3 separate regions of the Homo sapiens genome follow, and all the other regions are linked to region 3. Evidence: fine-mapped expression QTL. A gene starts in region 3. Each other region holds a variant in brackets. All regions are shown on one strand. Distances are from middle to middle. Region 1 overlaps STARD8 (StAR related lipid transfer domain containing 8). Region 2 overlaps STARD8 (StAR related lipid transfer domain containing 8). Region 3 holds the start of STARD8 (StAR related lipid transfer domain containing 8).

The links. PIP is the estimated chance that this variant, and not a neighbour inherited with it, causes the effect.
Region 1: its variant is fine-mapped to the expression of STARD8 in fibroblasts (GTEx, PIP above 0.99). The same link has a PIP of 0.9 or more in T cells, blood mononuclear cells, monocytes and whole blood.
Region 2: its variant is fine-mapped to the expression of STARD8 in whole blood (TOPMed, PIP above 0.99). The same link has a PIP of 0.9 or more in blood mononuclear cells.

What each region holds. Positions count from the first base shown.
Region 1 is chrX:68,698,438-68,701,195 of GRCh38, reverse strand. All of the region lies in intron 2 of STARD8 (StAR related lipid transfer domain containing 8), which reads right to left. Among named protein-coding and RNA genes, the nearest start is that of STARD8, 52 kb to the right of the region's middle. The variant C/T (reference allele first, on the strand shown) is at 1,094.
Region 2 is chrX:68,682,925-68,685,682 of GRCh38, reverse strand. The region is part of intron 2 of STARD8 (StAR related lipid transfer domain containing 8); the gene reads right to left. Among named protein-coding and RNA genes, the nearest start is that of STARD8, 37 kb to the right of the region's middle. The variant G/A (reference allele first, on the strand shown) is at 1,170.
Region 3 is chrX:68,646,247-68,649,004 of GRCh38, reverse strand. It overlaps STARD8 (StAR related lipid transfer domain containing 8), which reads right to left and starts at 1,339. Exons shown (of 15, transcript NM_001142503.3): 1 at 1,078-1,339. The coding sequence starts at 1,122.

The DNA.
Region 1 (2,758 bases), 52 kb before region 3:
TGTCACCATCACTACTATAGCCTGTTGAGTGTCGCGAATGCCACTAAAGAAGGCCAGAGGAAGGGAGCCCTGTGGGTGGGCATGGCCAAAGGGAGCTTTTCTGGGTAAGGTGGACTCTGAAATGACTGCAAAGTCCAGACCGAATGCCCACGAGGTGGCAGGTTTGAGAACTGCCCACCCCCAGGTCAGTGAAAAACAACCAAATGACAGGACTGCAGAAGGTACTACCAAGCAACAATAATGGCAATAATTTTATTTATATTGTTGGATTTAATATTCAACAACTCCATGAGGTGGGTACATATCTCCATTTTAGAGCTGACAAAATGAAGGCTCAGAGAAGTTAAGTAATTTGCCCAAAGTCTCCCAGCACTGTGAACATGAGAGCTTGTGTACAGCTCAGGACGTATTTTACTTCTGCTCCACTCTGACCCCTTTTCCACATTCCCCTCTCTGTTTTTCCCATTTAGAAGGCCCTGCTGGTGTGGGCACTGCTCAGGACAGATGTTTGGGGACAAGCTCTTCCCACAAGCTCACTGCCTCTGCCACAGCCTGACTTGACCTCAGCCTGGAGCAGAAAGGCTGGCTGCAGGTGCCTATCTCACACCTCAGACAGGCCAGCCTTTGGCCAGCCCAGATAAAGGACAGGAAATCCTAGGCCACGTCCCTTGGAGCTCACTCTCTCACAGGAACAGAGTTGCAGCCAGGGCAGGGGTTCCTCTGTGGTGGGGAAGCTGCCGAGTCAGCCCCGGCTGCCATGGCTGCTGGGTGTGGTTTGGGGAAAACAGGGAGGGCTGAGGGTCAGGAGACCTGGGCTCCAAATCCTCCCTCACTGGAGACTGTTCTTCCCTTCCCTGGGCCTCAGGTGGAGACCACCACAGATCATTCTGGGGAAATCATACCATCTACTTTACAGGGCTGCTCTAAGAACACAATGGAATCATGGAAGTGAAAGTGCCTTGGCAACTGAAGAAATGGGAGGACTCATAGTCATCATCATCAACTGCCAGGGGAAGGAATGGCTACGTTGGTATTTCTCACTGTCTGATTCACTCTTCTAGGCCCCACTGTGGGCATGGCTCATACTCATTTC[C/T]GGCTTCAGTACTCCCTAAAATATCCCCTTCCCTCCACCCACCCCTGACCAACTCCAAAGATAAAACCGAGTGGCAGGAAAGCAGGGTACGCTGGAAGCCCCCCACATATTACATTGTATTTAACTCAACAAGGGGAACACCTACTAACACCAGGCTTGTCCTCCACTATGGGGGCACCAATAAGAAGGCCCTACCTTCCAAGGGCTCTCCAATCGTGAGAGCTGGCTGGACCTGAACCATAAACAAATCAGTGTTGTCTAAGGTATTTGCACCCAAGATTCTGGGGGTTAGGAGTCTACCTGTTGTGGTAACCAGAAAAGGATTATGGAAAAGTCATCTGAACAAGTTCAGACTATAAATAAACTAAGGGGAGTGAGGGGTTTCCAGTGCCCCATTTCCTGCCCCCACATGTTAAGGGGGCCATAAACAGTAGCATGTAGGGAGGACAGAGGACAGTGATGAGGCTGGGAAGGGGGCTGCTCCAGGTCTGAGAAGGAGCGCAGACGCTTGAAGGTTGTTTGGCCTAGAGAAGACACAGGTGCACTTGGGTTCCATCCTCAGATCCCTGAAGGTCAGAGAGAGCAGACAGGGTCCAGGTGGTCCCAGAGGGCACACTCGGAACCCAGGGTTAGAAGCCTCAGGGAGGCACAGTTAAGTTCAACATAAGAGAAAACTTTCACACATTCCAAAGACGAAAGCAACTTGCTTGAAACATATCACATTCCCAGGTATTGAACATGAGTGAGCAGGAACTGCACAAGTACCTGTCGGGAAGCCCCAAGCTTCAGAAGGAAAGTTGGACCTAGTGCCCTCTAAAGGTCCTTCTGCCCTGAGCTCTGCCTGCATACCTACCTCTAGAGGGGTTGTGGGAGAGAGCATAAAGGTGACTGGAGCTGGCTAGGCCCTTGGCTGCTTCCCACAGGGACCTAGGATCCCAGGAGCACCTTGGGCTGGTACGACCCAGGGGGAGCAGTTCACTCATTAACTTGTGGCTGAATGGGTCAGAGAGTGGCTGGCCACTAGGGACAGACACAGGCTTGGGGAGGGGCCAGAGAGCAAACTGCAGAAATGCCCAAGCACAAGGAGAACCCAAGCTGTGGCAATTCAGGGCTTGGCCAGCTCCAACTGACCCAGCCAGCTGAGAACATTCAGTGTCTGGGCCTGATTGAATTTGAAGCCAGCTCACCATTGCCTGGTAGATAAGAAAAGGGTCTTGAGTGGGGAGGCATACTTGCATAGCTGAAAGGAAGGCTCACAGACCACTGAGTCTGCCTGCCAACTGCCCTACCCACTTTATAGTTGTGGAAATTGAGGCCCAGAGAAAGCAAAAATCACTCACCGAGAGAAAGCTATAGAGGGGGCAGAACCAGAAGCCGTTTCCCAACTCTGTAGTAGGCCCACGGGGTGGTTCCTTCTCTTCCTACTGAAACTGCAGGAAACTGCATATGGTCTGGAGCTTTCTAAATTGGGTCTGGGTCTGGGTCTGGGTCTGGGTCTGGGTCTGGGTCTGGGTCCTGGCCCGACCCTTACCAAGTGCCACTGCTTGTCCAGATACAGGCTCCCGGAGGAAGGCATCCTCCTCCACTTACAGAGGTCCTCAGCCTCTCAGCAGCAATCATGTGGTTGGCTGTCCCCATTTCCACTGCAGCCTGGTGTGGAGGGAC
Region 2 (2,758 bases), 37 kb before region 3:
CCGGGGCAGTTATCTCTATGTTGCAGGACTGTTGTAAGGATCTGAAGGACTGATCATGGTGCCTGGCACGGAGTATAGACTTCATTAAGAAAGATTAGCTTTTATTTTCAAAGAGTTTAGCCCCTGGCGTGTACCACAAAAAAAGCCTGGACTAGGACTCTAAGGTACATAACCGTTTTTTCTAATACGCAATCCCCACCACCGCAAGCAAACTTGCATTACCTGACTTGGGGATGGTGGGGGGTCCTGGTTAAATTTGTTTTCAATGGAGATAAGGCCAAAAGTTACCAACAGCTCTCAGACCAGGTCATTTCCATTCTACTTCTGTTGGTGGCCAGTAAAGGGACCAACATCCTAATAGGGCCTCTGCTCTAACTGTGGCATAACCTGGGTGATTTCTCCTCTCTGAGACTCAGTTTCCTCATCTGTAAAATGAGGGTAATATTCCTATGACACGATGGGAATAATGAATGTGCTTTGTGAACGATAAAGGGGTACATGGGTGAAGGTCACAGCCCCTCCCCCCTACTGTCTCCATACCTTGTTCCTGGAATCTAGAGCTAAGCTACTCCATTTGTGAGGGATAAGCTAGAAAAAGGAAGTGCAGTTTCCAGTTGATATGTGCTTATTTGCATGATATTTGCACCCACTTTTCATGAACTCAGTGTCAGAGCTAGAAGGAAATTAGAGGTTAACATGTTGATCTTCATGCCATGCATCCCTTTTCCCCAGGGCAATGGTGGCACATAGCAGGTGTTCACAAAATATTTACTAACTGAATGAATGCATTCTTCATGTGGGGAAGAGGACTTGTCCAAGGTCACACAGTGAGTTTGTTTCAGAACCAAGGCAGATCTGACTCTGCTCCTCCTTCCACTAGGCCATTTCTACTTCATGGAATTATTTTCCTTTTCCCTTCAAATGACCATAAATCAATGGGAAGCCCGTCTCTCCCAGCACCCTCTGGCCTATCAGCAGTCCCCATTCTGGACTAGCCCAGGCAGGACAAACAGCCACTGGGATGCCCCTCTCTGGGCCCAGCTTTCTGCTGCCACCCCGTTGACTCCTGAGTTTCGAGTAGTCCCTGCACTGCGCCTCTCACAGGGGCAGCCCCCTCCCCCACGCCGCCCGCGGAAAAGGAGGCCTCAGTCAGCTTCCTCCAAGCAGAG[G/A]AGTTTCCCTTTTGCTCTCCGGTTGGGCGGGAGTGTGGGACATAGCCCCCGGCAGTGGCAGCGGCCTAGAAGGAAGGGCGGCAGCAGTCACTTCCCACCCTGCTAAGGCATCTCCCGCCCTGTCCAGTCCCACCCCTATTTCCTGAGTTCTGCTGCTTCAGCTCCAGCCAGAACAGTGATATGAAAGAGCTCCGAAGATTCACTTGAGTCACAGAGCCCTGTTGCTGGGAAGGACCTTCGAGGTTATTTATTCCCACCACCTCCCCACTCCAGGCAGGAATGCCTGCTGTTAGCAAAGAGGAGGAGAGGGGGCACCTTACTGAACCTCCACAGCTTCAAGTTTCTCCTCCAGATAATGGACATAATATGACACATAGCTGACAATGGTGCTGTGAGAGGAGATGCAAGAATGGATCTAATAAAAGCTGATGTGGATTGAGCACAAGCTATACCAGACATTGTTCTAAGTGCTTATTTAATTCTTACCACAATGCTCTGAAGTATATATATCATCATCATTACCCCAGTTTACAGTTGGAGAAACTCAGAAGCAGCAAAGGTAATCCAAATTGCTCATAAGTGGCAGTGGCAGGATTGGGACCTCGAGCCTCCATCTTCACCCATATATAACGGTGGTAATCATCCTTACCCCCAGAGAATGATTGGACCCCCTTGAGAGTTACTTGAATTCACAAGTGTTTGTTTTACTGTAACTTTTGTATTCAAGTACCCCTAAGGGCTGAGAGGGAAGAATGTGATGAAACCTTGGGGGGCTGATGATGTAAACCTGAAGTGTTGGCTCCAAGTGGGAATGTCTTTGAAGTCCAGCTTTTATCTTAAACATCCACTTGAATTTTCAGTTAACTCTAGTATGCATCCTTGTTTTCTTATTAAAATTCATCTTTTCCTTCCTTAAGCCTTTGAGGAAAATGTACACTCCAGGAAGAGGAGACATACCGGTCTAATACCTTCATATGCCTCCAGGCCATGGCCTTGTACCCCAGGGGTAGCAGGCACCTGGTTCAGTAAAAGATAGGCCCTTAGTCACTGAGAATAGCTAAGGTTTATGGAGTGTTTGTCATGTGAGCCAGCATTCTAAGCACTTTCTATATATGATTTAATCATCATATATAACTCTATGATAAGCTGAATTATTATTGCTACCATTTTCAATGGGAAAACTGTAGCATAGAGAGGTTAAATAATTTGCCCAAGGTCATACAGTTTGGACTGTCAGCTTTAGCTAGTAACCACTGTACATACTGCCTCTCAGGCCACATGGAGTTTCTCTTACCTACCTACCTCCACCACTTCCCACCAGGATGATTGATTTGATTATTGGCAGAAGCAGGCCTTATTCCAATTAGAAGATCAGCTCCTTGAGGGCAGTGACAAGGGGGCTCCCTGCTGCCCCTTTCCCTATATCGATGCTAATCCTGGGGCTGAGCCATGCACAGGGCTGGTCCAGCGTTCAGATTTGGCAACTGACTGTTTCCTGGCTGGTGGCAGTCTCTTGGGCCTAGCACCTGTTGAGCTGGTGGATACAGCACTAGCATTTCACACAGGAGTCCTCTGCCACACTCTGTGGC
Region 3 (2,758 bases):
GATCCCAGCTCTGCCAGTCATATCTGAGCAACCTTGTAAATATTTCTTAACTATTCACAGTGTCTTTTCCCTATCTATAAAAGCAGGAAAACAATGGGTTGTGCTGAGGATCACTGCCACATGAATGAATTAAAAGTGCCTAGGTCTGGTACATAGTGGATACTAAATAAATATTAGTTTCTTGGTTCTTGAGAGTGGAATCATGCTTTACACACACTTGTGGGTTCGGCTGTGCTCATGTATCCCCCATGGCCAGGATATAGTAGACACTCAACAAATATTTACTGACAAACTGACTATTTAGCACAATGTCTGGCATATAGTAGGTGCCTGGTAAATATTTGTCACTTTTCTTATATTCTCTTTGAGGACAAAAGCCATGTCCTTCTTTGTCTTCTTTTAAAAAATGGAGATGGGGGTCTCCTTATGTTGCCTAAGCTGGTCTTGAACCCCTGGCCTCAAGTGATCCTCCCACCTCGGCCTCCCAGAATGCTGGGATTACAGACGTGAGCCACTGTGTCCAGCCCTTTTTTGTCTTTGTGTAGCTCCAGTGGTGCCTAGCACAGAGTATGTGCTTTTATATATATGGATAGAAATTAATAATAATAATAATAATAGATACCATTGTTTGTGTGGATGCTCCACACCAGGCATCCTGCTAGGAAGCTTACACACATTATCTCCTGGATTTGCATACATTTGCTATGTAAACAATAACACCAACCTCATCACCCCGTAAGGTTGGTGTTACTATGGTCCTCATTCTAAAGCTGAGAGGAAACTGAGGTTCAGAGAGGTTAAGTATCTTGCCTTTGTGGCAAGATCCAGGAAGCAACAGAGGCGAGTTTTATTAAAAAGAGCCAACTAGCAGACTTGTTTGTATGGGAATGCAACAGAAGGTCACAGAACTGGTTAAGTGACAAAGGTGAGACTTGAACCCAAGCCTTTCTAACTCCGAGAGCCTCAGGTAGTCTCAGAAGCCCGTCTGGTCCGTTTTCCCAGCTGGTGCGCAGTGGTCCACATCTGCCTCCTTCCCCCCTGAGCAGCGGGATGGGCTGGGGCTGGCCAGTCACTTACCTTCACCTTCCTGAAGCAAGACCAGAAAACGTCCAGCAGAGGCATGGTGGCGCGTGGGGAGCTTCTAGGGCCGGCGGGGCTGTGCCGGGCACCGGCTCCTCCCTCTCTGGGGACGAGGCTAAAAGAGGCCCGGGGCTCGGCGAGAGCCAGCCCGGTCCCTGCGCTCCATGAGCCGGCCCCGCGAGGGGAGAGGCGGAGAGCAGCGGTTGCCGGGGCTCAGCTGCCTCGACAGCGGGCGCCTCCCGCCTCCTGGAAGGCCACCGAGGGAGGGAAAAAAGGAGGGAGGGAGAGAGGCCGGCTAAGGAGGAGGGACCAGGAGGCGGGTCACTGATTCAAACTCGGCACCGTTAGCCAGTTGGCTGGAACGGGACAGCAATGCCAATTGAAATTCCCTGAACATTACAGTTCCCCGGCTCCGGGTGTCCGGCCCTCCTGCCGGCTCCCCTGCCAGCCCCGCCACCTGCATGCTGGCATTGCCTGCCTGCTTGCTTCTTGGCTGACTGACACGCCAGCTCTCCTTGGGGACCTCTCGGTAGAGCCCAGACCACACAGGGCCTGTGGAAAGAGTGCCAAGGAAAAGGGGCAAGGAAGGAGAGCCCCGGCCCCAGCAGGACCGAACAAGGTGTGAATGCAGTCCACGGAAGGGGAAAAGCTTGCAGCCTTAGAAGCCCCTCTCAGACAGGTGCCCTGGCCCTGCCTCAGTAGATTATTCTCCAGCCCTCTGAAGTGAGGACTCTTGACTCACTGTGGCATCTCGGAGAGGCCCCTTCCTCCTGGGTCTCAGTTTTCCCAGCTGTACAATGAGATGCCGGGTTAGAGGTCTCTAAGTATCAAATCTGTTTGGGGTTAGGTACAGGGCAAGTCTCAAAGAAACTCCACTCTGGACAATCACAGTTCCTCTCAGAACTCCCCTGCTGCTCCTGGGAGTCCATAGGAAGTCAGGTCTTGCCCCAAAGAGAATCTGAGCCCTCAAATGCCATTTCATCCATCCCCCTGCCCCAGGGCATAACAGCAGCTCTCTCCCAGCTCAGATAGACTGGGTGTATGCCCTTTTCTGAACATCTTCTGAAGAGATGATGGCTTCCCTCCTTTATCCAGTCCCATGCTCAGGACCCTCTAAGCCCAGAAGTTTAGCCTGAAATCTAAACTTGAACCCTCTGGATGCCCTGAAAGGAAAGAAAGTCAGCAGCAGGCAGTTCTAGAGGCTTTCTGGGCAGAAAGCCATTAAGAAGCAGTGACCCTCCCCCTCTCTCAGCCCCTCCCCAGACATCAGAAGGCAGGGTGCCATGGCTGGTAGCCAGAAGGCTCCCAGGGACCCCATGGCAAAAGGCCAGGCTTGGGTCTCTGGAGGCACATGTCATCATGAGGCCCAGAATAACTAACTCTCCCTGGCCTCACTTCTGTTTCAGAGACCCAAGCTAGTCAGGCAAACAGCCAGGTCCTGGGACCCTGGAAGGTCCTAGGTTGCTTTAAGCAAGCCTCTACCTGCCTTCGGGGACTTTCTTCATCAGTGGCTTTGTCCGGAGGTTTGTCCAGAGGCTCTGTGAGGGTCCCCCCAGCTCTGTTTACAACTTACTCTGTGACCCTCAGTTTCCTCGTTTGTACCAAGGAGGCTGCAATCACTGACCTCACCCTCTCTCTAGCTCCGACCTCAGGGGTGTCTCAGATGTGAGTTCTGTTG